5 linked regions of the Homo sapiens genome follow. The protein of the gene in region 3 interacts with the protein of the main gene of each other region in a pairwise test. Each region holds a gene or a part of one and is shown on either strand. Other genes may lie near its edges. The genes, in order: ZNF426, MEOX2, RHOJ, PAK1 and WAS.

Region 1 (6,149 bases), on a different chromosome or scaffold from region 3:
ATAGAAATAAGCCATATTGTTTTGAACTCTTTGCATTTCTTTCTCCAAATCCTTTCATTTGTTCTTGTTGTGGTTCACTCTGTTTGTTGCCAAGGCTGGAGTGCAGTGGTGTGATCTGAGCTCCTTACAACCTCTGCCTCCTGGATTCAAGAGATTCTCCAGCCTGAGCCCCGTGAGTAGCTGGGATTGCAGGTGCTCACCACCACACCCAGCTAGCTTTTGAATTTTTAGTAGAGGTGGGGTTTTGCCATGTTGGCCAGGCTGGTCTCAAACTCCTGACCTCAAGTGATCCACCTGCCTTAGCCTCCCAAAGTGCTGGGATTACAGGCATGAGCCACTGTGCCTAGCTTGAGTCCTTTTATTTGTTTGTCTGTTTTATTTCAGGATGGGAAATGCGACTTGAAACCCAGTGGTCTATACTTCAGCAGGACTTTTTGAGGGGTCAGACATCCATTGGGATACAATTGGTAAGATTTGCATAGGATATTTTTTATTTTCCACCCTCAGAGAAAATCAGGAATTCTGTTATGGGAAGTCAGCAAAAATAAGAGATATTTGAGAGAAGTTGCATACACATGAGAGGGAGCAAAGAATTTAGGGATGCTCCAATTGTGAAACTTGTTTCTTTGGAGCTTTCACACATTCCCACAAGTGTAACTAGACGTTGAGTTTTGTTTTGGTGTTTTTTTGAAACGAGATACTGCTCTGTCACCCAGGCTGGAGTGCAGTGGTGCAATCATGGCTCAGTATAGTCTTGACCTCCTGGGCTCAGGCGATCCTCCCACCTCAGCCTCCCTTGGTAGCTGGGACTACAGGCATGCACCACCACACCCAGCTAATTCTTCAAAATTTTGTGGAGACAGGGTCTTACTGTGTTTCCCAGGCTAGTCTCAAACTCCTGTGCTCAAGTGATCCTCTGCCTCAGTTTACAAAAGTGCTGGGAGTACAGGCATGAGCCACCACATCTGGCTTAGACTATGAATTTTTTTTTTTTGGTCGAGACAAGGTCTTGCTGTGTCACCCAGGCTGGATTGCAGTGGCACAAACATGGCTCACTGAAGCCTTGACCCCTTGGCTCAAGTGATCCTCCCACCTCAGCCTCCTATGTGGTTGGGACTACAGGAACACACCACCATGCCCAGCTAATTTTTTGATATTTTTTATAGAGATGGAGTTTTGCCATGTTGCCCAGGCTGGTCTCTAATTCCTGGGTTCAAATGATCCACCCACCTTTGCCTCCCAAAATGCTGGGATTACAAATGTGAGCTACTGCACCCATCTAGACATTGAATTCTACAGAAATCTGTTATTATTATTATTATTATTATTTTGAGACGGAGTCTCGCTTTGTTGCCCAGGCTAGAGTGCAGTGGTGTGATCTTGGGTCACTGCAACCTCCGCCTCCCAGGTTCAAGCGATTCTTGTGTCTCAGCCTCCCAAGTAGCTGGGATTACAGGCATGTGCCACCAAGCCCAGCTAATTTTTGTATTTTTAGTAGAGACAGGGTTTCACCATGTTGGCCATGCTGGTCTTGAACTCCTGACCTCAGGTGATCTGCCCCCCATCGGACTCCCAAAGTGCTGGGATTACAGGCATGAGACACCATGCCTAGCCAAGATTAAAGTAGATGGCACAACATTCTAGAATAAGAGTTAAGTCATACCACTTAAAATAAATCTACAGGGAAGGACCTGAATGCATGTAATAAAAATGGCATCAATTATAATCACCATTATAATGTTTCTAGCTTCAGATGGGTATGTTCTGTTAATATGTTTGAGAAAAATCCTTAAATCATCATCATCCCTTCAACAGGAAGGAAAACACAATGGAAGGGAACTCTGTGACTGTGAGCAATGTGGAGAAGTCTTCAGTGAACACTCATGCCTTAAGACGCACGTGAGAACTCAAAGTACAGGGAACACTCATGACTGTAATCAGTATGGAAAAGATTTCCTTACCCTGTGTGAGAAAACCTCTACTGGTGAGAAACTTTCTGAGTTTAATCAGAGTGAAAAAATCTTCAGCCTGACACCAAATATTGTATACCAGAGAACTAGCACACAAGAAAAGTCATTTGAATGTAGTCACTGTGGAAAATCCTTCATTAATGAGTCATACCTTCAGGCACATATGAGAACTCACAATGGAGAAAAACTCTACGAATGGAGGAATTATGGGCCAGGTTTTATTGACTCTACAAGCCTTTCTGTGCTTATAGAAACCCTCAATGCAAAAAAGCCCTACAAATGTAAGGAATGTGGAAAAGGCTATAGATACCCAGCCTACCTCAGTATTCACATGCGAACCCACACTGGGGAGAAACCATATGAATGTAAGGAATGTGGGAAAGCCTTCAATTATTCCAACTCATTTCAGATACATGGAAGAACTCACACTGGAGAGAAACCCTATGTATGTAAGGAATGTGGGAAAGCCTTCACTCAGTACTCGGGCCTTAGTATGCATGTACGATCTCACAGTGGAGACAAGCCCTATGAATGTAAGGAATGTGGGAAATCCTTCCTTACATCCTCACGCCTTATTCAACATATAAGAACTCACACTGGAGAGAAGCCTTTTGTATGTGTTGAATGTGGGAAAGCCTTTGCAGTTTCCTCAAATCTTAGTGGACATTTGAGAACTCACACTGAAGAGAAGGCCTGTGAGTGTAAGATATGTGGGAAAGTATTTGGGTATCCCTCATGTCTTAATAATCACATGCGAACGCACAGTGCCCAGAAACCATACACCTGTAAGGAATGTGGGAAGGCTTTTAACTATTCCACCCACCTTAAAATTCACATGCGAATCCACACTGGAGAAAAACCCTATGAGTGTAAACAATGTGGAAAGGCCTTCAGTCATTCCAGTTCATTTCAAATACATGAAAGGACTCACACTGGAGAGAAACCCTATGAATGCAAGGAGTGTGGGAAAGCCTTCACGTGTTCCAGTTCCTTTAGAATTCATGAAAAAACTCACACAGAAGAGAAACCCTATAAATGTCAGCAATGCGGGAAAGCTTACAGTCATCCCCGTTCACTTCGAAGACATGAACAAATTCACTAGTGAGAAACTGTCCATGTAATAAATGTGGGAAAGCTCTCATTTGTTCCAGTTCACTTTAAAGACATGAATGAACTCACTCTGGAGAGAAGAAGCTGCATGAAAATTACTTAATTCCTGTAATCCCAGCATTTTGAGAGGCTGAGGTGGGTGGATCACTTGAGGTCAGGAGTTTGAGACCACCCTGGCCAACATGGTGAAACCTTGTCTCTACTGAAAATACAAAAAATTTAGCCAGGTGTGGTGGGCACCTGTAATCCCAGCTACTTGGGAGGCTGAGGCAAGTGAATCACTTGAACCCAGGAAGCAGAGGTTGCAGTGAGCAGAGATCATGCCACTGCACTCCAGCCTGGGCGATGGAGTGAGACTCCATCTCAAAAAAAAAAAAAAAAGAAAATTATTTGATTAAATTGAGTCTGTTAGAGTACATCCCTAATCCAATATGATTGGTGTCCCTATAAGAAGAGAAAGACACAACTGAGACAACAAATAGAAGATGATGTGAAGTCATCAGATGATGGCCATCTGCAAGCCAAAGACAGAGCACTGGGACAGATCCTTCTATCAAAGCCACCAACCCTGCTGGCACCTTCATCTTGGGCTTCCAGAACTTTGAACAAATAAAATTCTCTTGTTTGAGCCACCCAGTCTGTGGTATTTTGTTGTGGTGGCTCTAGCAAGTGAATACAGTAAGCAATAAGCAAAAACGTTTATAGATTGTCCAAAAGCCTTAATATTCACATGCAAAGCCACACTGGAGAGAAACTATATGAATGTAAGACGTGGGAGAGCCTTCATTGAGTCTTCAGTCCTTTCTACATACAGGAGAAATCACATAGGAGAGAAATTGTATGAATGTAAGGAGCATGAAAAAGCCTGTGAATGTTCACTATATTTTAATATTCACATGCAAGTTGTCTGGTCGTAGACCATGTGAAAATAGAGGAGAAAAAAGGAAAGAAAGTTTCTTTTACTGTGAACGCAAGGAATGTGACCCCATACACCATACTGGAACTTGGAGTGGACTGAAATCCCATTAGGATTGTGGAAAAGCTTACATTAATGTTTTCTACCTTCTAGAAGGTGTAAGAAGTCGAACTGGAGAGAAGCCTTTTACCTGTAATGCATGTAGGAAGCCTTACATTAATTCCACAGAATTTTTTTTACACATGTAAAATTACCTCAGAACCCTGGGAAGGTAAGGAATATGGTATAACCTTTAAATATTTCACATGCCATAATAAGTACATGAATTCTGATAATACTGTACCGTTTCTTGAGTAGTGTTAGTACCTTATACTATCAAAATAATCCTAAATCCTCCCTCTCAGACCTTCCATCATTACTATATTTCACTTTTATGCCTATAAACACACACAAATTAGCATATGTAATCTAATACATTGTAGCTATTTTTCAGAAGTTATCAGATCAATTAAGTATTAGAAAAATAAACATTTTTATTTTACCTTCACTTCTTCCTTCTATGCTCAAAGTTGGATGTAATTCTTATACTTGATCCTCAATACTTAAAGCATTTCCCCCCCTCTGGCTTCTATGAAAATTTTTTGTTATCTTTGATATTCTGTTATTTTTAAATGATATGCCTAGGTATAGGTTTTTGGTGCTCGTCCTTCTTGGTGTTTGCTTAGCCTCCTGGATTTGCGTTTTGGTGTCTGAGTTAATTTTGAGAAATTCTGTCATTGTTTCCCTTTTTTTTTCTTTCCATCTGGTATTTCCTTTATATGTAGGATACATCTTTTGTAGTTATCCCACAGTTCTTATATCTTGTTTTTTTATTCTTCTCTTTGCTTTTCAGGTGTGGATGTTTCTGCTGATATATTCTCAAGCTCTTTAGTTGGCTGTTTCTTGGCCAATAATAAGCCTACCAAAGACATTCTTCATTTCTGTTACACTGTCTTCAATTTCTAGCATTTCTTTGTGGTTCTTAGAATTTCCATCTCTGTGTTTACACTGCCTGTCTGTTCTTGGATGCTGTCTGCTTTATCCAGTAGAACCCATGGCATATCAATCATAATTGTTTTAAATTCCCAGTCTGATAATTTCAGCAATCCTGCTATATCTGGTTCTGGTTCTTACTCTTTCTCTTTAAACTAACTTTTGCCTTTTAGTATGCTTGTAATTTTTCCTTAGCTGGACATGGCATACTGGATAAGAGGAAATGCTGTAAGCAGGCCTCTAGTAATCATGATAAGCTGTGGGGAGAGGGGCAGCATTCTATTGTCCAGGGATTAGATGTCAGTCTTGCAGTGAGTCTGTGCTTCTGCACTGTGAACTTCAGTTTTTCCCACCCTTTAGTTGGGTCAGGATGTATAGAGTTGGCTGGAGTTGGATATTTCCCTTCCTCCAGGTCACTGAAGCTCTGACTAAAACTCCAGGTGTGGTGGCTTATGCCTGTAATACCAGCACTTTGGGAGGCCAAGGCAGGTGGATCACCTGAGGTTGGGAGTTCATGACCAGCCTGAATTGCTTGAATCCAGGAGGTGGAGGTCACAGTGAGCCGAGATTGTGATACTGCACTCCAGCCTGGGAAACAGTGAGACACTGTCTCAAAAAAATAAATAAATAAATAAAAGGCTAGGCGCAGTGGCTCAACCCTGTAATCCCAGCACTTTGGGAGGCAGAGGTGGGTGGATCATGAGGTCAGGAGATCGAGACCATCCTGGCCAACATGGTGAAACCCCGTCTCTACTAAAAATACAAAAAAATTAGCTGGGTGTGGTGGCGGGCACCTGTAGTCCCAGCTACTTGGGAGGCTGAGGCAGGAGAATGGTGTGAACCCAGGAGGTGGAGCTTGCAGTGAGCCGAGATCACGCCACTGCACTCCAGCCTGGGTGACAGAGTGAGACTCTGTCTCAAAACAACAACAACAACAACAACAACAAAAACCCATCATCAATGCTCAGCCTTTCTTAAACATGAACTCATGGTGGACAGAGCCCTATGAATGTAAGGAATATAGAGAAGCCATCACTAGTTACTCAAACCTTATTGAATGTGTGAAAATTTACTCTGGAGAGATGCCCTTTCAGCATAAGAAATGTTGAAAAGGATTTATA
Region 2 (6,688 bases), on a different chromosome or scaffold from region 3:
ATGGGAATGTGTTGCCCTCTGTGGCTTCCTGCGGCCAAATTCGGCGGTGAAGCTTTGGTCCTGATATTTGGGGACACGTGTTTATTCGAGAGCAATGCGTATACAGCCAGCAGCTCTAAGCCCTCCAAAGTCCTAAACTAGTTTACCAGAAGGTTGATAAAAAAGGACAAGTGGCTGTGAAATCGATTGTGAAGCGTGACCTTCCATCCCAGCGCTGGGGAGGGAGGGGCGTGCGCCCAGGGATGCAGCGTCCGTTGGGCAGGCGTGCGTGCGGGTGCCGCTTCTTGACTTTTCTCTTGCAAGTTGCCGACTCTGAGTGGCTCGATTTTTCCCATCGTTAACTGGATTTCCAAATTATTGCACAATGTTTGGAACTTGCAATGGAACTTGGCAGAGCGCATGAGAAAAAAAAGTTTCAGTTTTTTTTTTTTAACATTCTTATTTCAGCGTTCTTTAAATAGCACCCTATTTCAAATGGTAAAATTTTCCCTTTATTGGGGAAGAAGACATTATCTAGGAATTCAGATTTTAAGGAATGTGTCAGAGAATTGTAAATAAATAGATGCTCACACTGGAAGAAAGACGAACCTTAATAGTACATGTCCATGTGGTGTAAGCTAATTACAGAACCTAAGTTTCAAAAGTGGAAAATAAATCCCTCTACCAAGTGGGTATTAGTAGAGACAAATACTGCGAAGCAACAGCAACTCGGGTACTGTTAGTTAGATACGTGTCTAAAGGGGTATGCAAGGGTGCGCGCAGGAGGCGCTGATTTCAGTGGGGATAATTTGAGCAGCCATGCAAAAGGGGAACCTTCCTGACCTCTGGTGCTTGAAGGCACAACGTGCCGAATAAATTGTAGCAATCCAGAGAAACTCAAAGTTTCCAGACAAGTTTTCAAAGCTCTTACCTACCTGTATTTTTATAAAATTGTTAAAAGATACTTTAAAATTAAGAGACTTGTGAGTTTTCTTTCGTGGGTATAGTGCAACCTGGATTAAATACTTTTGGAAGGTGTCATTTGTTTAATATAATATTTGCATATTTTTCTTCCTCTGTGGAATTGGGTTAATAATAGTCCTAGAAGGTAATCCCATATGTTGGTTTGAAGGATTGGAAAAATGTTGATCGTGTGTAAAGCTTTAGGTAAGATGCCACATAAATGAAAATGATTGGCCGCATATTTAATATTCCTTCACCATTCACAGCAATATCAATTGTTCTTCAGCGTTACTATAGGATGGATTCTTCTCTCACGGTCTCAAAAGCTAACTTTTATTTTCCAAGGTCAGGGGGTGAACTTTTAATGTTCCATCACAAATTAGTTTTTATAAGAAAATTACCAGTAGTGTCACTGATATTTAATGTATTTTCCTAACTATAAGTGAAACTCTCTTTAGATAGTGAGTTGAAAGGTTAATCATAGCAAAAAGGTTTCAATTTTTATTAGAAAAACAGTCGATTTTAGAATGCAGTGACAATTTCATAAACTGAACATTTGATATCAGTGTAACTTTGGAAGCAGATCCCAGTTCGGGTTGATGAGCGTACTCTTGCAATTCCCATAAGCTCTTACGGTTCATTTTATTTCTTGCAATGAGAAACCTACATGATAGATTGTTCTTCATGCTTCCTGAACTGAGCCATTGCCCTTAAGTTTCTCAGGGCAAACAATTTTCATACAAGCACATGTTATTTTGTTTGGGGAAAACTGAGAAAACGGAATTCAATAACTGATTCCCTTAATTTATTTTAATAATTTTTTTAAAAAATGGAATAATTTAACAAAACTAATTTATCTCTCCCCCCCAACTTAGTGGGAAATAACCATTTAACAAAATTAAATTCATTTCTACATTTTGAAGCTGATAATGAGGGTACTGGAAAAACAAGCAAATATAAGTGTTTGTGTCAGCTACATAAATTATTAACAGATTAAAACTTCAGTGGAAAGTACAATTAGTCATCACCAAGGATAAAAATACTGGGGATTTAGAATGAGCTTTTCTTTCCTTTGATATGTTGAAGAAATATTGACTAAAAGGAAAATCACAATAGTTTCTGTTTAAATCTATGTACACTTATTGAAAATAAAATTTTATTTGCCAATTTCAGCTGAAGGTATATTTGTCAGATATTGAGATAGATTTAAATTAAAGATATCTTTCTCGTGTAACAATTGCATTAGGTGTTCCATAAATTATCTTCAAAGATATTTTATTTCATAGACATCTTGATCTAGCACAAACTAAAACAATATTGAAAATGATTATGATCCTGGTATGCTATTAATACGTATATCTCTCATTGCTTATAGCACATTTTAGTATTTCAATATTTCTAAAATATAAAATTGAAGTGATTTCGGAACTCCTGAAATTTAAAATTGTATTAGATAAAAATGTCATCCTATATAGTGAGATCATTTGTATTTTGTTAGGTAGTTTATAATTACTTTGCATTTATGGTTGAGAGAAAATTCAGTACATAAATCCAGGGTAAAGTCAGGACCAAAATTCTGTATCCCTGCATCTAATACTTAGACTGTATGTGTATGTGCTAATTCTAATTACCGTGTTAAATTCTAATAGAATTTTAAGCACCAGAAAGTATTGAAAAACAGCTTAAATATTTATAAACCTTACAATTTTATTCATAGTAACGATTTAAAACTATAATACGTAAGCTTCTCTAGCATATATTTTATGCACTTTCCCTCCACAAATGCACATGGACACACACATATGCAAACTCTAGCAGCTTCATGTTTTGGAAGCAAATATTTATGGACTTTAGGCTTCCTTTATGTAAGTTTATTGACAATTGAAAATAACCAAATTTAATAGAAAAACACACCATTATATTTTATATGTGTTAAACATTTTTGTAACTTTGAACCTGCTACGCTTTCCAGCATTATTAGCAAAGCCAACATCTGCCACGTCTTCAAAGGGACTCTTAAAAATCAAAACTTTACAACTGCTGAAAAAAATCACTACAAAGCAGGTGATTCTGAAAAATGTCTATAAATAGTGTGAATTGCTTGGCTTCAATTACATTTGGTTGCTCTTTGAGCAATCTAGTAGTAGGAATAAACTGCCCAGTTTTAGTTAAAATAACTAAAATTAATTCATTGATCGAACTTTAGCTTTTGTGCATGGTTATACAGTGTACATATCTAGATATTTTCTATTCAAATTTATGATACATATTTTATAAAAAATAGAAATTACATCAAAAAAGAAAAGAGCGATTTGGGGAGGTAGACTTTACTAGGTTTTGAATCATATTAGATTCTTGTAAAATTACAAATATTTTATTTATAGCTACTATGTCATAAAACCTTTGCTGTCAAATTATGTCTGTCTATATGCTTGACTATGCAGAATGACTAGCAAATATTACATTTAATAAGTTGGAACTTAAACTCAGAGTAATACCTTATCAACCTCATTCAGTATGATATTGTAATATTTCCAAGATATTTCAATCATTGTGTTTTCTGAAAGGAATAAATTAGTGTTATTATTCATTTCTGTGTTACTGGATTGTGGCTTTTCAGCATTTGCTTTAGAATTTAAAAAATAATATACTGGATCTTGAAGATTAAAGTGAAGTATTGAACAAATCAAATGGAGTACAAAAAAAAACTTCCATTCTTTATCTTGGACTGGTAGACTAATTTTAGGTGTGAACATTTAAAAATGGTAATCTGACATAAAAAATTCTAAGTATCATTGACCTACATGAGGGCTCTAAAATGTGATCTAAAATAATCACACTCAAGTTAAAAGCAACAATTCCTTTAGAATTAAAATGCTTTATTGTTGAACATTAGCAATGAATGGAAGGAAGAATGCAAATAAAAGTAGGAATAGTTTCCAATTCTGTGTAAATTTCTTCATTTATAGTTCATTTTAAAAGAAAAATCATAAATGCAAGGCATGGTATTGCACAAACTTTCACCGGGCTTAGAAATCCAGAACTTAGTATTTAAAGTTTTAATCTTTGTTTATGGTAATTATCAATAGAAACCTTTACAATGACATCTTATAAGCTGATCTTTACTAATAAACTGAAAAAACAGTACTTCAGTCATTACCCCATTCTCCCTCTGTGTTTCAAAACATAGACCGTTCATTATAACTCTGGAATTTAAGTTGTAATATTTATAATAAAATCTAAACATCCTAAGAACTTAATTTTAAGCAAAAATGAAATATCAGAAAATGTCAATCCTTTCTCTTAGATTCTGAGAAATTTGGGAGGTGAATTCCATATGTAATGAAATAATTACATTTTTTTTTGCACTTAAGAAATGTAAATCTATAGATGAATTAATAGCTGAATTATGTAAAACATCACCATATATAAGCCCACTACATGTACTTAGCCTGATAATGCTGCCTTGCTTGCGAAATTTTATTCATTTAGTGTTTTTATAATGGCAGCTTGACACACACAACCTAATATGAAGGTTTTTTAGATTTTAATTTCAAATGAGAAAAACCAATATAATACAGCAATATATTTTAGTTTTGAACTGTATTCACCTCAGGAATTTATTTCTAAATTTTCAGAGCAAATCTCTTTTCCAAGCACTGCTATGAGGGCTGCAAATATCTTTGAGCGATAAATACTAAGGATGCAGAAATATTAGAAAATAAATTACAGGTAGGAATTTCTTAAATAATATCTGTTGAATTAATAGTTGTGGATTATTTATCTCACCCAAATTTTCTTTATTTTTCTCACTTTTTTTTTTGATAAATGAAACATTTTGTGCAGGAAGATATATAAGCATTTCCCCCCTTGATTGTAATAATAAAAAGAGAAGGCTTAATTCTCAACTGGCCAGTTACATTGTATTTCCTGGCTTATAGTATTGGTAAATGATTTCAGTGGTTAAAATCAAAAGCAAAAAAATAAAATAAAACACAAACTAAGGCCAAAGTCCACAGATTAAAAATTGAAGTAGATGTGATTTATTTCCTATTTAGCATATTTAAGAAACAAGACACATTTTGTAGTCACAATTTGTTTCTACATATCATGTGCTTTAGATGTTAATATGGTTTACTGACATACATGTTTTGTAAAGATTGTAAATATAATGAGGCACTAACATTTTGCCTACTTTCCTTAGGATGCTCTCATGACTATTTCTTTTACTAGCGTGTTGAACTGAACCCCCAAGTAGAAAAGGAGTAACGGTGTAAAGTAAAGTTAGTTGCAAAACTCTCTACATTACTCCTAAATCACAGTCATCAGTGAGATTCAAAATCCCATTGGAGAAAACCTCGCAGAATATTTTATGTGTTTTAATGTAGTAAAACTTAGAATGGTCAAGAACATATAGGGCTCAGCCTACAATTTGCGTTAGAGGCAGAATTAATCTAAATCTGATGCCCATTTCTCTAACAGTTCTTCCCGTTTTACTTACATTATAAAAATATTGAATTTTTTAAAGAATGTTGTACTAGATAGTATTTTATGATACAAAATAATCAATAATGTATCTATTGATCCATTTGTGCTCATCTCAGATGTTGTTTTTATGTTTCAGAATAAGTATTTTCATTTAAAATCTCTTGACATTATTTATTACCAAATTAACAGAAAGTTACATGGTAAGTGTATGATCGAATGGGTTATTAATTTTCATGGGTCATGAGTGGGTTTTTAATTTTCCTCTATATTTGAAATTTTTGATATATAATTTCCGGAATAATAAGTAGCTCATTATTCCTGAAGCTTTCATTTATAATGTTACTTTGTGTACAGAAATATAATATTTCTAAATTTATATATGTTACTCACTACTAATTGTGCACTGTATTTTTAAATATTGGTTTTCACAGTGTTATGAAAATAATTTACATTTTTTTGGTTTCTTACATCACCATATGCACAAGAATGATCAGGTAGAATCCGTACTGTATCTATACATTTTTGGAAAGGGTTTGTATGAAAGATAGAAAAACCCTTTCAAAAATAATCCCTTGTTTTATCAATAGAATTAGAAATTAATAAACTGGATCATTAACTTGTATGATAATATTGTTATTTTATTTTTAAAATTTCCATTTATTTAAATGTTTAATAATTCTAAAATGTTTGTGTACCTTGATGACAATTCTTATGTCCTTACAATGTGTACTTTTATTGCAAATATAACATATTTTTACTAGGTAGTAACTCAGTGGTAAAAACTTTAGGGTACTGATTATAGCTCTAAATTCAAAAGCTGTTGCTCTTCAAAATTTTGTAGAATCAATTCAATGTGAATGTTTCAAATGTATTTAAGTATTCTGCTGTTTGTGTTCATAAGCTTTCTTTCTAAGATGTTAGACGTATGTTTCTTAAAGCTTGCATAGGCTACATTGATTAAAATTATGATTATAAGCTGCTTACTTTCATAGTTTTTTGTTTTTATTGTAGTCTAGTAGAGAGGACAATGGCAAGGAAAGGATAAAAGGGAGGGTGCTGAATTAACTAGGACATGGAAGCTATACTTAAAACACACGTTAAAAGAAGGCGTTTACTTTATATATGTATATACATATATAGGTATATGCACACTCACACCCACACATATATATGCATGCATTACTGTAACTCCAAATTTAATTTCCTGATAATAGTAAATCTGAATTAGAGCATCCTTATTAAATGCATAATATGATTA
Region 3 (6,688 bases):
GCAATTTAGTGGCCAACATTTAATAGTTTGGAAACACATTTCTAGCCTCTAAAAGAAATTCAGAAGGTCGAGCAACTCTAGCCCAGCATTTCCTCATCAACAGAAACTGTTAAACAGTCTCTTAGATTAAGCATGTATTCTTCAGTCTGCCACAATCCCCACCACTCCATATTATCCTATACTCAAGTAACACACTTTACATTATCCAGCCTTGAATTGGCATCTCTGCATTATAGTCTTCAAAGATCAGCAGCAAATCTGTCTGGCCTAGAAATGTTTTTCCTCTTTCACCAATTTGATCATAATGCTGACTTGTTGAGATGGCGGCTTTTCTCTTACAACCTGTTTGGTTCTTTTTCTTTTTCTTGGCTCTCTATTTGCCTTCTCTGTGTGCCTTTGCTAATTCTCAAATGAGGAATACAGAACTACTCTGCTACTAGCCATTTCTTTAGATACGAGCTTACTCTGTTTATTCCACTAACATCTTCTCTTCTTTTCTCTCCATTTACAGGACATGCCTTCCTTCTTCTTCCCTTCTCTCATCACCTTTACTATATCCGTAACAGCTTTGCCCATTTATTCATTAATTTTGCTCTTTCAGCCACAATTTCATGACATTTGCTAGAGACAGCCCAAAAGAGTAGTTAAGACTTTGGCTCAGGAGGCAGACAAATTCGAATCTCTGCCATTTTCTTAGTTGTGTGGCCATAAGGGAGGTTACTTAGCCTCTCTGGGTATCAGTTTCCTGAGCTGTGAAATGAGGATGGTGACAGATTTTTCCTTGTAAAGTTCTTGTGACAATGAAATTAGCTCATGTACCACAAGGTCCAGCTCAGCAAACTATAGTTGCTGTTAAATCCATGAGCCCTCTCAGACATGTCTACAGCTGGGAAGATCTCTTTGCCTTTATCCCTTCCAGTTACTTTCTATCTTATTCTATAACTTGTCCTGCCCCAACTAGAACAACATGGAAGAAGTACTAGGTTTTCTTTTACTTGATTAGTCATTACGGTTTTTTTTTTTTTTTCTTATCACTCTTGTATCTTCTGTACATCGCTGATAAATGTCCCTGCTTTTGAGATAATAAGTTTTAGCTATTATAAAACAATAAGAAAAGTGTTTTTTCAGTTTACACCCTCAATCTCTACTTTTTTCTTGAAAATAAGTCATTTGGGTAGAACACATTCCAGTTTGCTTGCATGTGTATCTAAACAAGGAGGCTTGAATCCTGAACCCTCCCAGATGGCTTCTAAATACTTGACTGTGTAGGTCATTTTGCTCCAAGGAGCAGATGAAGTTGCTGCTGTAATAAGGGCCACATTTCCTTGAGACAATTTTTCATTTCACATCTTTGAGGACACAGATCATTTTTTTTAGCAATCTGGCTGTGCTTTTTCCTTGAACCGGGATGAATTCTTCTCCGACCCTCATAGCACTTGACACATGGTAACAATACCTACCTCATAACTGGATTGTTTCTCACACGTGTTTCCCAAATGACACCAATAATCTGATGACTACTTTTTCTATCAGTACAACATAATGTCATATTAACTCAGTTACACAATAATGCCTTTATCTGCTATTTCATTATCTTCAGAAATGTCTGAATTGGAAGAGACAAGCTTGGGCTCCTCCCGCTCCATCGAAAGGCAAAGCCTGACATGCTGTCAGCTGCACACTGGGGGCAGGAGGATGGGGAGTGCCCTGCCCCTCCTGCAGGACTCCAGGTGTGAGTGAGCTCAGCCCAGCTGTCCTGGAATTCCAGGCAGAATCAATCCTAGGCTTGGGATCCTTAGTGGAGAGGTATTCCAGATAGAAAGGTGCTACAGCAGTTTCTAGGTATTTTCCAGACAAGTGCCACCACGTTACAGTCAAGTCATTCAGAATCATTCAGTTGGCAACGCTGTTGCCATTAGATTAATGTGCTTTTCACATGTGTTTGAATCAAGCATTGAACACAGTCCCAAAATGCAATAGAAGGCATTTCATTATGTTATTAGGAAAATTTTCTCTGCGCTTTATTCCTCTCTTGTATCTAACTGTTTTTAATTATTTAAAAAAGTTATTTTCTAATCTGAAAACCAAACCATGGTCAAAATGAAAGCCATAAAATAGATTTTCAACATCCAACATCGTTTTCTTTTGGTATTTTCCCTTGGCTCATTCAGTAACCATTCTTGTCAGGAAAAAAATGAAAAATGCATAATCTCTGTCGGAGAGTTTAGGAAATAGTGTCTGGGCCCAACCAAAACCACTTTATTTGATGGTTAGTTTTCATATTTGTGGCCTTTGAAATAAGTGGACAATCTCATTTCATTAACTGTCAACTTGACCAGCTTCTTGCAGAGCTGAGTGATAGGGGTCACAGTTACTGCCACAGAGCAAGGAAATGAACATGTATCAAGAGACCCAGATTCTGGGTCTATTTCTTTCACTTTCTAGGTGAGTGCCCATAAGCAATTCATTTTACCTCTCTGGGGTTATTCCCGCTCTGTTCTAAGCTAAACCACAAGTTCACTTAGTCCACACATTGCAAACTGGCTGGCTGCTGCCAAATATATCCCACATCAGTGTCTTGCTTGGCCCATGGTAAATAGTTCATAAACTGGTAAATATTAAATAAAAAATCCAAATGTCCAACTCCTCTTGAAAAATACAAAAATGGGCAATAGTAAACCAACATTACCACTTGGAAGCTGATAAGACTGCACACCCTAGAGGGGGCATGTGCTTTACAGCCCACCATAGTCCCCTCCTCTCCCTATTGTCTTGCGCCAGCCCCACTTTATCATTTACATAAGCTATTGGGCATAATAGGCCTATGATTTTGCTACCTTGTTTTAGCCATTTGTCTGCTGTAGTTTCCAGGAACTCGCCATTTAGCCAACCTCTTCTGAATCTGCTTTAATTTTTCAAAGTGATTCTTAAAATGCGAATCAAAAACTAAAGTCATTTCTCCAGATGTCCTTAATAGTAAAAGGCCAACATCACATCATTGACTCTTCCTGAGCTTATGAACAAATAAAACCGCAGGTCTCCTTCACAAGAAGCTGACTGCTAAATATGGTCTGCCCTGGTCTGTGATTTTTAAATGAGAATCTATAGTTCTGGCCTGAATTTCTATATTTCTCATGAGAGGTTTGTGATTATCAAACACACCATAGTATGAAATCATCAGAATATTTAAAATGAAGCCCTATGCAAGTATGAAATACCTTATCATTTAAATATATAGACTGTACACTGACAGGATGTCTCTGGCATTAAATGTCTTTTATGATTATCGTTACATGTTTTATTGTTATTGTTACATGTTTTAGTGGGTTTTTTTTTTAACTTTTTAAAAAATATGCCTTTTAAAGTGTGTTAAGGCTGGCTGCAGTGGCTCATGCCTGTAATCCCAGCATTTTTGGAGGCTGAGGCGGGCGCATCACATGAGGTCAGGAGTTCAAGACCAGACTGGCCAACATGGGAAAACCCCGTCTCTACTAAAAATACAAAAACTAACCCGGCTTGGTGGCACACGCCTGTAATCCCAGCTACTTGAGACGCTGAGGCAGGAGAATCACTTGAGCCCAGGAGGCAGAGGTTGCAGAGTTAAGATGGTGCCACTGCACTCCAGCCTGGGCAACAAGAGCGAAATCCATCTCAAAAATAAATAAATAAAGTATGTTAAAACTAAATAATAATGCCAATTGGATATTACCTTGTTGAGGGATACCTTAAAAGAGGTACATTTTAATCAAGAATGACCTATAAAACCATATCATTCACTCTCTTTCTATCTGCTTTATCAACCAAGCTGACACTTTGCCTTTTATCATACCAAAGAAGATACATTTCACTTGTACATGATTTACACATTCTGCCTACAAATGAGAGGATATGAAAAACAAGATCATGCACCCCTGTTCTTCACAAAACATATTTAAATTATATCATTGGTTTTGAATTGTCTCCTAATTTTTTAGATCTTTGCATTTTTTATGTTCTTAGGAATAAATGGCTATGGGTCAATTTTAGGATTTACTGCTTTCCAGAAGTAATCCACAACCATTTATTGCAAATAAAGGAAAGTAAAAAATACAAAAATACAAAAAAAAAAAAATAGGATAGCAGATACAAATTGAAATGGAAAAAAAAAAAAAAAGACAAACATAATCCAAACCACCCCACAGGCTGTTTGTAGGACAGGCAGAAGTAAGTGCTTGTCTGGGCAGTGAGTTGATACCACTGTGCTTTTCTCTCTTTTTTATCTCTCATGCCTTTCTCTCTTTTGTGTTTAAGATCGGAGCACAGTGCTACTTGGAATGTTCAGCTCTGACTCAGAAAGGTCTCAAAGCGGTTTTTGATGAAGCAATCCTCACCATTTTCCACCCCAAGAAAAAGAAGAAACGCTGTTCTGAGGGTCACAGCTGCTGTTCAATTATCTGAGGTTGTCTGGGACCTGCCTCCACCCCATCCAGGGATGAGAATGGCAGCCAATCTCTGTGGCCAAGCTCCAGCCAAAAAGGAGGGCACGACCAGAAAGGAACTCCCTTTGCACGGAGGCTTGCCCCATCACCCTCTGAGCCCTCCCAACACAGCACACTAGTCAGCCCACTGCCACGACCTCCCTGCCAGCCAGAAGCATCCGTACTGCACGCTGTCTGAGAATGCTGGGCCTGGATTGCAGACAGTGCCGCTGCTGATCGCATCAAAAACAAAGTCAAAGGCCATCTCACATTTTACAAATCCCCAGCTCATGAACGTGAAGCTGATAGGAAATCACCCCAGGGAACCCGAAAAAGAAACTTGATTCCTCTATTGCTGGCCTTACTTGATGTCTTTTATAAAACTTGGGACTACAATACTAACCTTTTTTTCTGAATCTGCTGTTCTACCCATGTGTCTCACATTCATTTGTATTATTTCAAGAAATGTACTAATTTCCAGTTCACTCAGGCCTTACTAATCCATACCAAATTAGCCTAAAGACAAGGCATTTTATATTCATTTCTATTTTCAGCATGTTTCTACCAAAGCTATTAGAACCAACACGTACCTCTGAATGCCCGATTATAAGAAGACATGAGAAGACTTTAAAAGTTTTGGAAATTTACAGAGCCATGATTTTTGAACCTAATTGAAAGAAAACCATCTGAATTGTTGCAGGTCCACATTTTTGCCAAAGATACACTCTATAGATGCTTAGTAGTGGCCTGATTTTTTTCCATGTATTGCCACGACAAACTAAAAATGAACTGTGTTTAAGAATGTAGTATTTCTGTTTTTCATCCAAGTTGATTGGGGGAAGAATATGGCAGGATCCATCTTTTACAGTATTTTGTATTCAGTAAAGTGGACATTCCTGCTCCTCCCTTCCCCCATTGCATGCCCTCTTCCTCCCTTGATTTCACTTTCTCTCATGCCCGGATCCTTTTATTCTCCCCAGTTATAACCCAGTTATAAAAGAAAGATCTGAGCATAAAGATACGTGTTTAAAAATAACTAAAAGTAAAGGAAAGTGCCTTAATTTTTCTATTTGCTTCAACTGAAAGTGCTTCTCAGCTCGCCCCATGTAAGTTCTCATTCCATGTAAATGACATTTTCCAGTTACAACTGGTACTGAGATTTTGCCTCTCTCTTTCCTTACTCATCCTCCCAAATGTCTTTGTGGGAGCCATATCAGTGGATACCAAGCTCTGTATCCATTTGTCCCCTGCCCTCCACAATGTGTGACATAGAACAGGGACTTTGGCCCTGGGAAAGCAAAAGCTCCCAGTAAGGAATCCTGTGCCCAATGATGTAAAACAATTCCAAACATCCAGGAATTTTTGTATCATAGAGCGAATTACTTCCTATCTTTTCATTAGAGGCTATGAGGACTTCTAATTAGTCTTAGTTGCTTATAAGTGCCCTGGAATCACCCAGGTAGGCACTTAATTTTTTTTTCAGTTGCATGAGCAAAGTGCTTCTTAGTAGTGTGAAATTACAACAACTTTAAGACTTTCCAGATTCAAGCTCCCACTGTTGGAAAAAGCCAGCCTTTCTAATCTCTTCTGCTACTGGAATAAGCACTTAAGAATTGCGTGATAGCCAGGCACCGTGGCTCATGCCTGTAATCCCAACACTTAGGGAGGCTGAGGTGGGTGGGCCGCTTGAGCTCAGGAGTTCAAGACCAGCCTGGGTAATATAGTGAGATCCTGTGTCTCTATAAAAAAATTAAAAATTAGTCAGTTGTAGTGACACATACCTGTAGTCCCAGCTACTCAGGAGGCTGAGGTGGAAGGATCACTTGAGCCCAGAAGGTAAGGCTGCAGTGAGCTGTGACTGTGCCACTACACTCCAGCCTGAGTGACAGAGAAAGAACCTGTCAAAAAAAAAAAAAAAACAACCTACATTTCAAGTACTATTTCCCTTCTCTCCCATCTAATTGCTAAAGATTTTCTTTCATACGCACACACTCCAGTGACTGGAAAAACGGGAGTTTTCAGTCAAAGCTTGACATTTAGAGAAAACAAGGACTTTCTGCCTTTATAAATGGAAATCAACTGTGTATGAACTATAACTCTGCAGAGGTTATGAATTCATCCTTTACAAACAATAATGAACTTTTAGTCCTGTAATAAATGAAATGTTATTAGGCAGCTTTGTTGCATGATTGCATAGTTATATCTTGCTAACGGGCCACTCATTTCTCACT
Region 4 (6,688 bases), on a different chromosome or scaffold from region 3:
TGCAACTGTCCACTTGTATATCTACTTACTTTTCTCTGTATTACCCTCTGGAATGTAATCTTTGTAAGAGCAAGGACAAGGACCATGTCTGTATTATTTATGAGTGTATCCTTAGTACTAAGTACAATGCTTGGCACACAGGAAGAAATCAATAAATATGTGTAGTCTAATTAAGGAATAAATAGAAGCACTATAGAGCTGTACAGATGCTCCTTGACTTATGATTAGGTTACGACCTGATAAACCCAACTTACACTGAAATACTTTAAGTCAAAAATGCATTTAATACACCTAACATACCAAACATCGTAGCTCAGCCTACCCAACCTTAAACATACTCAGAACACTTACGTTCACCTACAGTTATGCAAAATCATCTAACACAGAGTCTATTTTTTAATAAAGTGATGAATATCTCATGTAATTTATTCAATACTGCACTGAAAGTGATTGGATGGGTATTCCAAGTATGGTTTCTACTGAATGCATATTGCTTTTACACCATCATAAAGTCGAAAAATCATTAAGTTGAACCCCTGTAAGTCAGGGACCAGCTGTATTGGATTGGTACATACATGAAAGAGTGTGTGTGTGTGTGTGTGTGTGTCTGTGTGTGTGTCTGTGTGTGTGTGAAGAATATACTCAGCAGCCATTCCTAACTGTCCTGGAACCTTTACCACATAGTCAACTAAGTCAATTATCCGGCAAGTGGCAATGGATAGTAAAAAAACGATTTTTTGAAAGAGTTAGAGGGAACTATAAATATATTTTACCATTCTCCTAGGAACCTACAATTTTTTAAAAAGTGCCACTGGTCAGGGCAGCACCCAAATGATCAGGAACAGGTGACCAGATTTGGAGACAGAAAATATGAATTAAAGATTCCAGTTTGTAACTTCCCAGCTACATAATCATGCCACTTAACTTCTGTTCATTTATAAAAATATGATGGCTAAAGAACAGAATTAAGTTAAATGAGACTCTATATAAAAGGGTTTTGAAAACAGTAAAGCACAAAAATTATATATATAATCCTATATATAATCTCTAGAAAGTCCAGGAAACTTGGACTTTTCAAGTCTATCACAATGGGCTTTCTCATTTTGCTCACCTGGTTCTTTATTTTTTTTTAAGTTACTTTACAAATTACATATGTAATTTATTAAATTAAGCAAAATCTATCCTGGATACCAAAAAAATCTCAGACTCTGGACTGGTGAGATAATTCCATATGAGAAAATAAGTGGGAGGGAATGTTATAAAATAGTAATTCTTGGCCGGGCAAAGTGGCTCATGCCTGTAATTCCAGCACGTTGGGAGGCTGAGGCGGGCAGTTCACTTGAGTCCAGCCTGGGCAACACGGCAAAACCCTGTCTCTACAAAAAATACAAAAATTAGCTGGGCTTAGTAGCATGCCCCTGTGGTCCCAGCTACTCGGAGACTAAAGTGAGACGATTGCTTGAGCCCGGGAGGGCAGCACTGCAGTGAGCTATGATGGAGCTACTGTACTCCAACCTGGATGACAGAGCAAGACCCTGTCTCAAAAAAATAAATAAATAAAATATTAATAGTAATTCTCTAACAGGTAATTGGAGAACCAAGAGCCCCTCCAACTATACCAAGTCCCTCTTTACCCATCCCCAAAACTGGCAATTTACATTTTGTTCCTGTAGCCCATTGGGAACTATTTCCATAGTGAAATACTGTTACTGATGGACTACATCCCAGTGTATCACAGAGAAAGGGTGAGGGCAGGGAGTAGGTGAGAAGGTTAAGAATCACTGTCGAAATATTCAAGCAAAGAAGTTGGCATCAAATTCAACACATTTATATGACAGCTAAGGAAAACTGAGTCTCAGGACGGTTAAGTGACTTGCTGTGGTTACACAGTAATAATTTTTAAAAATGTCTTCAAGGCCGGGCGAGGTGGCTCACGCCTGTAATCCCAGCACTTTGGGAGGCAGAAGCGGGCAGATCACAAGGTCAGGAGATTGAGACCATCCTGGCTAACACGGTGAAACCCTGTCTCTACTAAAAATACAAAAAATTAGCCGGGCATGGTGGCACGCACCTGTGGTCCCAGCTACTTGGGAGGCTGAGGCAGGGGAATGGCGTGAACCCGGGAGGCAGAGCTTGCGGTGAGCCGACATCGCATCACTGCACTCCAGCCTGGGCGACAGAGCAAGACTCCATCTCAAAAAAAAAAAAAAGTCTTCAAATGACAGCTTGATGTCTCTGCTCCTAAATTTCCTCATCTGTAAAATGAGTTAGCCAACATCAGTCTAGCACATTACAGCTTCCAAATTGTTGTGCATATATCCACAGAGCTTACCTGATTCCCTACCACACCGCAAAAGTCTAAGACGGCTATGGTGTAATAGAAAAAGCATGATGAACTAAACAATCATAAGAACCTGGCTTCAGATCTTAGCTGTGCTGTATAGCCTCAGCAAGTCAATTAACCTCTTTGTGTTTTCTTCTATCAAATGAATATAAAACAACACCTGTCCTAGCTAACCCAGGGGATTGTCCAAAGAATAAAGTCAGATAATATCAGTAAAAGTATTTTGTACATTATACAAAAGGCCCTTCATCATCTGGGCCCTGCCTCCTCTCTGCTCTCACGCCTCCCCACTTTACACCCTATCTTCTAAGCATACTAAACTACACAGGGCTCCCCAAACAGGCTCTCAAATCTTCTGCTCACATATTGCTCTCTCTTTCAAGAGGGTCCATCATCTCCCCTTTCTTCTCACCCCTCCCTGACTGTGCTTCGTTAACCCCTGATCATTTTTCAGAACCCATCTTAGATGTCACCTCCTTTAAGAATGCTTGCCAGGCCACCCCCATTTCAAGTGCAGCAGATGCCCTTCCTCTGTGTTCACATGGCACTTGCACTTATCTCCATATTTTTGTCATTTTTTGTCTCAATGTAGTGTAATTGTCTATGCACATGTCTGTTTCTCCCGGAAACTATAAACCCAAGGGTAGAGGCTATGATTCATCTGTTTATTCAGAACCTATGACAATGCCTGATGCATAATATGTATTTAGCAAATGAATGAACTTTAAATGGCAATAAAATATTACTTTTCATATAATACTTACATAAGACATTTATGCAAAACATTGTTAATATAAGGCAGTGCTTCTCAACTTTGCATATCAGAATCACCTATAAACCTTTCAAAATAGAGATGCCAAGGCAACTCTTTACATCTTCACAAGTAATTCAAGTGCATAGCCGAAATTAAAACCACTGCTACACACAATCATAGTCATAAAATTACAAACTACTCTACCTAACATCTATATAGCTCAGTATCTTACAATTCACTTTTACATATATTATTAATCTTCACAAGAATTCTGTAAGTTAGGTATTATTTCTTTCAAATGAACAAATAGAGATTTAAATAAGTGTCCAAGTAGCTCTTTGTCTAACTTCAAATTTTGTGCTCTTCCTTAAACCCTCCCTTGGTAAGTGCAGTAATACACAAATCAAGGGTTCCACCAGTGAGGAAGACATCAATCTTAGCTTTGTGGGAATCCAGGAGGAAATAAGGAAAGCTGGACCTTAAAGATATAGGCAGGCAGATGAGGGTGGAAGCCATGCATATACTGTCATTGTCATTTGCCATCCCAAAAGATTCAAAAGGCAGATTCTATAAATTAGAAAATGCTCTTGCCAGCCTCAGTTAGTACTTAACAGTCTGAAAGGGAAAGGGATATTGGAGAAGGCTGGAAGTAGAAAAGTAATAAAAGAAAGCAGCCCATAAACAAGAATGGATTTCCCAATCCTGCATGCAAATTACCTAACTCTGACTCCAGGAACAAAAGCCAAGACATAATGGACTTAAGAATTAGATGAATTCTACAGTCAATCAATACCACGAAAACTCATGAGGGATGAATGAACCTCTGGTTCTTTCTAGACTTACTACTACACTATTCCTCAAGAAGGGATAATCCGGAGAAGCCTAGCATATACATGACTTTCCCCATCTCAAAAACTAAAAGAATGGGAGAGAAGAGGAAGATATTCATGAAAGAAAAGGCTTACAAAAAGGGTAGAAAAATGTAGCACATTAAGTTAATAAATTTACGATGGCACAGGGAAATATTCAGGCACAAGTGATTCCAAATACTGGATAAAGCCTGATCTGGCAGCTTCAGTAAAGAGGTATTATCTTCTAAGTCTGCAACATCATGACCATCTGACATAGAGTTTTATCAGCAATTATCCTTTCTAGTTCAAACTGTGGACTTCAGTCAGGGTTTTCTTAGGGAGAAGAAGCTAAAGAGATTAGGAACCAATTTAAAAGAATGTGTCTAGTGCCCCAAAATTTAGTTTGATAGAGTTTAAAAGGCAATATGTTATAGTGGCAAAGTAAAGTACTACACTTAGAATTTTAAAATGTGGTTTAAAATCAATATTCAGGCATTCATTAATGATGTGCCTCTGAGCAAGCCAAGACTTCTATTAATATGATCCTCAGCCTGCTAACTCGTAAAATGGGAATACCTATCTCATAGGGCTGTTACGAAGATTGAACAAAATAACATCCAGGAAAGATGTTATTTTTCCTGTATGAATGATAAATGTAAACGAATGTAAATCTGTCTTCACCAAGCCTTCTAATACACACACAAAAAAAACATACCAAATGGAAACTTTAACTCTCACTGCAATATATTTACTTGCAAAACATTCCTATATCCTCTGTGCAGAAACATTAAAAGCAGCCTCTGTACTGAAAATAGCACATAGCTGCTGGAGTCAGGTGCACATGGACTAGAATTGTTGGTCTGCCACTTACTTGCAGCAAAACCTTAAATAAGCTCCCTTTACTAGTATGACTCTCAGGTTTCCTCACCTATGATACAGAGATACCAGCAATCATCTCATAAGGTTATTCTGAGGGTTAAAAAGAACATGTTAAACATCTCATATAGGGCCTGGTACAGAACAGGTATTCAGTAACATAAGCCATTTTTAGTAAGCTTACCACCACCTAACAACTAACAAGCAAATTATACTTTTCAAAGATTCCTTTATAGTCATTATTTTAATTGCTTCATGATCCTGTAAACTAGTCGTAGCAACTATTACTATCCCCATTTTACAGTTGGGACAAAACACAGAGATAAAAATTACTTCTACAAGGTCATGCAGTAACATAGACACTAAAGAAGGTCTCCTAACTTTTCCAGGGTTTCATTTTCACCCACTACAAATTACAACATTACCCCTTAGAAATTAAAACATCTGTGAAGAGACTTTTTTTTTTTTTTTAATAATGGGCATAGAAAATGACCCAGAAGGAGCAAACACTGGTGTGGGAGAATGTTTTTAAATTTTTTATTTTCAAGTTTGAATATACTGACTATTAATTTTGAATCAATGCATTTTTCCTTTTATTTTTAGTTGATATGTAATAATTGTACATATTTATGATATTTTGAGATGTATATAATTCGTAATAATCAAATCAGGATAATTAGCATATTCATCACTCCAAACATTTATCATTTCTTTATCATAAACAGTCAAAAGCCTCGTTTTTAGATGCATATTGTTTATCGCTTTTCAAAAATAAACAATAAACTGTAGTGAGATGTATTCTTTTGATAACCTTAAACTTGTCTCTTTACTATGCCAAAAAGAAATATTTTTCTCCCACTTTCTGGTTATTATTTAGAAAAATAACATGGAGAGGGATCAGAAAATTCATTAAAACCAGCAACAACAGAATTAATGTCTCAAATTGGCAACTGCTGATTCCACCTTGATTTTTGTTTTAGTTTTCCCCAACAAAGCCCATGACCTCTTAAAATTTTTTAAAAGTCTGCCTGTCAAAATGATGCTTGTTTGACAAATTATTCCTAAACTGAGGGAAACAAATAGAAAGGCAGCTTTCTCCCCCCCTTTATGATCATATACCACCTTTTTTCATCCCTCTATTTCATCTCTTCATTTCAGCACTTATCATGTCATATTATCTCTAGCTCCTTAAAGACTTGGGCTGCACTCTTGTATATAGCTGAACATCCTGCCCAGCACAGGGTCTGGCACATGGTGGAGAAGGACTCATAATTTTATAGTAAACGGATGAATAATTGAAGCCACTCTCCCAGAAGGAAGCTAGGAAAGGAGAAAACTGGGCATGGTATCTTAGGGCTAATAAGAAAGTGAAAGAAACAAAGCATTTTAAGAGCTTGACAAGGAAGAGAAACCTTTGTGTGGAGTCAAACAGGCCCTATATAGCTTTAAGTATCACCAGAGAAAGACAAAAACCACAGGAGACCAGGAAGAGACAGTTTTAAGTTAAAAGACTCAAAAGTTAAGAGTGCTTATTTAGACTTGCAAAACCAACTTGCAAATTCAAAAGAAACAATCCTGGCTTGGAATATTGCAACAGCAGTTTTCAGGTGGTGGTTAAAACAAACAAACGAACAAAAGACTAGGCTAAAAATTCTTGCAGGCTTTGGTTGGAGACACATAAAGGGAAAAGCTCAACCTAAAATGAATCCCCCAAAAATGTTAGGATCCCCTTGGATTTGCACATTGGACCATGATTCCTATTCATTCTGAGAACGGTTCTTGAGTAAAACCCCAATGTCGCAGCTGGCAATACATAGAATTAAATCATCTTACATTATTCATTCAACAAATACTTGAGTGCCT
Region 5 (5,753 bases), on a different chromosome or scaffold from region 3:
AGAGCTCAGAGGGACTGGTGGGGGCCCTGATGCACGTGATGCAGAAGAGAAGCAGAGCCATCCACTCCTCCGGTGAGCTGATCCTGCCGGGGCCTCAAACCTGGCTCCCAGGGCTAGCACTGGCCTCAAAACAATCCCAGCAGTCACCACCAATAGTGACATCAGCCCCATCTGTTTGACAGCATTAACATGAATCTTGTGTCAGCCTCGTTTTTGACAATGTTAACATTAAGTCATTATGTGACAATAATATAATTAACTCCAACTTTGACAGTAATATTAACATTAATGCCAGGGTGTGTCCACAATATTAATGTCATTCCCACATGTTCAGTACTATTAACATCAGCTGGCCGGCGCGGTGGCTCATGCCTGTAATCCAGGAACTTTGGGAGGCTAAGGCAGGAGGATCACTTGAGCCCAGGAGTTCGAGACCAGCCTGGGCAATATAGTGAGACCTCGTTTCCATAAAAACTAAATTCAAAAAAAGTAGTCAAGCATAGTGGTGTGTGCCTGTGGTCCCAGCTACTTGGGAGGCTGAGGTGGGAGGATTGCTTGACCCTGGGAGGTCAAGGCAGCAGTGATCCATGATTGTGCCACTGCACTCCAGCCTGGGTGACAGAGATCCTATCTCAAAAAAAAAAAAAATTAACCCATTATGTGATGACAATATTATGAAGAACACTATTGTTGACAATATTAATTTTAATTCCATGTATTAACAGATTTACATTAATTCATTATGACGTAACCTAATCTAATCTTTTAAAAAATTTTTTTGAAACAGGGTCTCGCTCTGTGTCCCAGGCTGGAGTACAGTGGTGCAATCATGGCTCAGTGCAGCCTCAACCTCCCAGGCTCAAGCGATCCTCCCGCCTCAGCTCCCAAAGTAGCTGGGACTACAGGCGTGTGCCACCATACCTGGCTAATTTTTGGTGTTTTTTTGGTAGTGATGAGCTCTCACTACCAAGCTCTCACTACTCTCATGTTGCCCAGGCTGCTCTGCAACTCCAGGGCTCAAGCGATCTGCCCCGCCTCAGCCTCCCAGAGTGCTGGGATTACAGGCATGAGCCACCAGGCCTGGCTGTTAACCTAATCTTTTTATAATAATGTTACTATTACTCTCTTAATCTGTCAGCAATACTGTCACTAATCCATTATATGATGCAAATATTAGTATCAACCTACTATAGGAACTTCATCTTTCGACAATGATTTTTTTTTTCTTTTGAGACGGAGTCTTGCTCTGTCACCCAGGCTGGAGTGCAGTGGCGCGATCTTGGCTAACTGCAGACTCTGCCTCCTGGGTTCAAGCGATTCTCCTGCCTCAGCCTTCCGAGTAGCTGGGACTACAGGCACGCCACTACGCCCAGCTAATTTTGATGTTATTGTCATTAACCCCATTATGTGTCAAAAATATTAGCGTTAACCAGACAGGAAGCAATAATATATTATCACACCTTTGCTAATATTATTTAAATTCACCCTATTATGTGATAAATAGGTTAACATTAACCCTTTGTTTGACAATATCTCGACTAACCACATTTTTGACAGCATAAACTTCAACTCCAACTAGAACTCAGACCCCAACTATAATCCCTTTCTTGTCCCAAATGGAAACTCTAACTTGCCCTCCTCTAGCATGAGACCTCAGAACCCCAGGGTCCAGTCCTCACCTCCCAGGCCCTATGAAGCCCCCCACCAACCTCCCAGGGCATCTTATCTTTCTCTTTCCCTCCAGACGAAGGGGAGGACCAGGCTGGCGATGAAGATGAAGATGATGAATGGGATGACTGAGTGGCTGAGTTACTTGCTGCCCTGTGCTCCTCCCCGCAGGACATGGCTCCCCCTCCACCTGCTCTGTGCCCACCCTCCACTCTCCTCTTCCAGGCCCCCAACCCCCCATTTCTTCCCCACCAACCCCTCCAATGCTGTTATCCCTGCCTGGTCCTCACACTCACCCAACAATCCCAAGGCCCTTTTTATACAAAAATTCTCAGTTCTCTTCACTCAAGGATTTTTAAAGAAAAATAAAAGAATTGTCTTTCTGTCTCTCTATAAATCTCAGTCTGTTTACATTCCAAATGTGGGAATGGGGTCCCTTTCCCCCAAAGTCCCTTTTATTCATTTATCCCATTTTATTTATTTAGCCTTACATGTATATATTCATTCATTCATTTATTCCCTCAGTCATTTAGCCTGTATTTCTTTGTTTCCTTCTGCCCCTCTGTCTTTCAACATTTATTGTCAGGTACTATTTTAGGGGCTAGGAATCAAGAAGTGGGAAAAAAAACAGACAAGAATTCCTGCCCTTAGGGGGTGAAATCCACATTCTAGGGGAAGAGACAGACAAGAAACAAGAAATCAAATAGAAATAAAAGATAGCTGCAGATCATGATAAATGCTGTGGAGTGGTAAGGCAGAGATACAGATGAAACAACATTCAGATGGAGCAGTCAGGGATGGTCACTTGGAGTAGGTGATGGTGGTGCTGGACCTAAAGAGAGAGAAATGTCGGCCCAGTTAATATTTGGGGAAAAGGGGTTCCAGGCTGAGGGAGCAGCCAGTGCAAAGGCCCTGAGGTGAGAAAAGGCTTGGCATGAGGCCAGATGTCATGCATTTAATTATTTTTTAAAAAAATAATTCAATCGGCTGGGTGCAGTGGCTCATGCCTGTAATTCCAGCACTTTGGGAGGCCGAGGTGGGCGGATCACCTGAGGTCAGGAGTTCGAGACCAGCCTGGGCAACATGGTGAAACCCTGTCTCTACTAAAAAATACAAAAATTAGCTGGGTATGGTGGTGCACACCTGTAATCCCAGCTCCTAATGGGGGCTGAGGCAGGAGAACTGCTTGAACCCGGGAGGCAGAGGTTGCAGTGAGCTGAGATCGTGCCACTGCACTCTAGCCTGGGCAACAGAGCGAGACTCCGTCTCAAAAAAAAAAAATCATTCAATCAACACAATACTAGATTAAGAGCAGCATACTCAATGAGCAGACCTCCCCATTCTCCATGCCCATAACAACTCACACACCAGGATCTTGATGGGCAGGATCCCCCTCTCATTTTTAAAATTTGGCTCTGCCCAGTTCCCAGTTCAAATCAAGCACTGGCCAATTGCAATGGAAAAGGCAAAGACTTAATTATCAGACAGATCTGCTCTAGAACCCGGGAAAGATGCCTCACCTCTGAGCTTTGGTTTCCGCATCTATACAATGGAGGTAACTGATTTCCAACGGGGATCCCACTGAGTCACCTCTCTGCCTCCTCAGGACTTGCTCTCCCAGAAACAAAGGAGTAACTCAAAAGCGTCCTTGGCGTTTACAGCTATTTCCAAGGGCATAATTAGAAACTGTTGCACAGCAAAGCCTAGAATTGAGCTCCCTGCCCCTTCCGATTTCTGAAATCTGGTGAATTCGAGATCTCAGACATCCTACCTTTAGAGGAGGAGAAAAAGAGAAAGGTAGTGGGGAGGAAGATAAAGGTGAGGGAGACTCCAGAGAGGGCAGGCTTCTTCAGTCTGCAAGAGCAACGGAAGAATTTCTAGGTGGAAAGGGGAACTCCCCCAAGCTAGAGAAGGAGGGAGTCTCAGGTTTCCTTTAATTCATTATTCTTTACACCGCAACACCACTCCCCACCCCACCCTGACCAGGTCCCCAGATGGGCACTGAGTCTAGGAAGGATCCATCAGCATCATTTATCCCTACTCCCAGTCCCCCACAGAAATCTTAGAAATCCAGTGTTCTGGTTGGCCGGGCGCGGTGGCTCACGCCTGTAATCCCAGCACTTCGGGAGGCCGAGATGGGCGGATCATGAAGTCAAGAAATAGAGACCATCCTGGCTAACATGGTGAAACCTCATCTCTACTAAAAATACAAAAAATTAGCCGGGCGTGGTGGCACATGCCTGTAGTCCCAGCTACTCAGGAGGCTGAGACAGGGGAATTGCTTGAACCCGAGAGGCAGAGTTGTGGTGAGCTGAGATCACGCTACTACACTCCAGCCTGGGCAACAGAGCGAGACTCCGTCTCAAAAAAAAAATGTGGTATACACAATGGAATACTATTCGGCCATAAAAAACAATGAAATCATGTCTTTTGCAGCAACATGAATGAAACTGAAGGCCATTAATTTGAGTGAAACAACTCAGAAACAGAAAGACAAATACTGAATCTTTTCACTTGTAAGTGGGAGCTAAATAATGTGTACACATGGACATAGCATGTGGAATTATAAACAACAGAAACTTGGAAGGGTGGGGAGGTGGGAAGGAAGTAGATGATGAGGAAATTACTTAACGAGTACAATGTGCATTATTCAGGCTATGGATACAGTAAAATGCCTGACTTCACCACTACACAATGTATCCGTGTAACAAAATTACACTTGTGGCCTGGCACTGTGGCTCATGCCTGCAATCCCAGCACTTTGGGAGGCCAATGCACATTATTCAGTTGATGGATACAGTAAAATGCCTGACTTCACCACTACACAACGTATCCATGTAAAAAAATTACACTTGTGGCCTGGCGCTGTGGCTCATGCCTGTAATCCTAGCACTTTGGGAGGCCAATGTACATTATTCAGATGATGGATACAGTAAAATGCCTGACTTCACCACTACACAATGTATCTGTGTAACAAAATTACACTTGTGGCCTGGCATGGTGGCTCATGTCTGTAATCCGAGCACTTTGGGAGACCAAGGCAGGTGGATCACTGGAGGCCAGGAGTTTGAGACCTGCCTGGCCAACGTGGTGAAACCCCATCATCTCTACTAAAAATACAAAAATTAGCCAGGTGTGGTGGCACACGCCTGTAATCCCACCTACTCAGGAGGCAGAGGCAGGAAAATCGCTTGAACCCGGGAGGCAGAGGTTGCAGTGAACCGAAATCACGCCACTGCACTCCAGCCTGGGTGACAGAGTGAGACTCTGTCTCAAAAAAAAAATATTATATTTGTACCCAATAAATTTATATGAAACAATTAAATGCTTCTGAGATCTGGCTTAATGGTTGCTCAGCCTGCATTCTGGTTCCACATGTAGGTCTGCTTGTGAAAACTCATTACAGTGTTCACCCCTGGTCTGTGTACCCTTCTGTATTTGTGTTACACTCCAATCTGAGGTTTACATTACAATAGGTCAAACCTGTGAATAAAACCTTATATTGGCTCCGGCACTGGGCAACGCAGTAATCATTAAATTAATGCTGAATGAACAGACAACTGGCTGGGAGTGGGACACGGTAGCAATAAGATGGCCTCTTAACTTTTGAGGTCTCCTGAAAAAGTGCTAGTCCAGAATGATTCACTTTCCAGATGAGCAGGAGACACCCACCCCAAGGTCACTTACTGCAGGTTTTACAGACCAGTTTAAGAAACTGCCTAAGATCAAGTAATTTAGTAAATGGCAGAGCCTGGATATGAGTCCAGGTAGTCAGGCTCCAGAATCCAGACTTTTGCCCACTACTTTATAGTGTTTGGGGGCACTACTGGCGACAGACCCTTTTGTCTCCCTCTCAGATCCAGACAGGCAGAGGTCCTGTCTTAAATCACTCTTGTGGGTTGGACAGGTCTCCTGGACACCCGGGAGTGGGAGAGCCCTGCTGCCCGAGGAGACTGGGGGTACATGAGGATGAGCACCTGACTCTGCTCGAGAAGGAGTAAGGGAGGGAAGGGGATGCATGGTGGGACCTTCGCTCCTGTCTGTCCCCTCAGGGCAAGCTGGGGCTGACGGAACCTCAGACCAGC

What was found.
Region 1: the proteins of RHOJ (region 3) and ZNF426 interact in binary tests that used the Homo sapiens proteins (3 or more experiments, as listed by UniProt).
Region 2: the proteins of RHOJ (region 3) and MEOX2 interact in binary tests that used the Homo sapiens proteins (3 or more experiments, as listed by UniProt).
Region 4: the proteins of RHOJ (region 3) and PAK1 interact in binary tests that used the Homo sapiens proteins (3 or more experiments, as listed by UniProt).
Region 5: the proteins of RHOJ (region 3) and WAS interact in a two-hybrid assay, tested with the Homo sapiens proteins (one study listed by BioGRID).

The regions. Positions count from the first base shown.
Region 1 is NC_000019.10:9,525,303-9,531,451, reverse strand, and holds part of ZNF426 (zinc finger protein 426), read left to right. Parts: intron 1-384; coding exon 385-467; intron 468-1,815; coding exon 1,816-3,072; 3' UTR 3,073-6,149. UniProt on the Homo sapiens protein: May be involved in transcriptional regulation.
Region 2 is NC_000007.14:15,679,097-15,685,784, reverse strand, and holds part of MEOX2 (homeobox protein MOX-2), read left to right. Parts: intron 1-3,804; exon of another isoform or gene 3,805-6,688. UniProt on the Homo sapiens protein: Mesodermal transcription factor that plays a key role in somitogenesis and somitogenesis and limb muscle differentiation. Required during limb development for normal appendicular muscle formation and for the normal regulation of myogenic genes.
Region 3 is NC_000014.9:63,286,588-63,293,275, forward strand, and holds part of RHOJ (rho-related GTP-binding protein RhoJ), read left to right. Parts: intron 1-1,600; coding exon of another isoform or gene 1,601-1,663; exon of another isoform or gene 1,664-1,730; intron 1,731-4,290; coding exon 4,291-4,437; 3' UTR 4,438-6,688.
Region 4 is NC_000011.10:77,464,407-77,471,094, forward strand, and holds part of PAK1 (serine/threonine-protein kinase PAK 1), read right to left. Parts: intron 1-6,688. UniProt on the Homo sapiens protein: Protein kinase involved in intracellular signaling pathways downstream of integrins and receptor-type kinases that plays an important role in cytoskeleton dynamics, in cell adhesion, migration, proliferation, apoptosis, mitosis, and in vesicle-mediated transport processes.
Region 5 is NC_000023.11:48,689,363-48,695,115, forward strand, and holds the end of WAS (actin nucleation-promoting factor WAS), read left to right. Parts: coding exon 1-72; intron 73-787; coding exon of another isoform or gene 788-1,107; exon of another isoform or gene 1,108-1,744; coding exon 1,745-1,800; 3' UTR 1,801-2,065; downstream 2,066-5,753. UniProt on the Homo sapiens protein: Effector protein for Rho-type GTPases that regulates actin filament reorganization via its interaction with the Arp2/3 complex. Important for efficient actin polymerization. Possible regulator of lymphocyte and platelet function.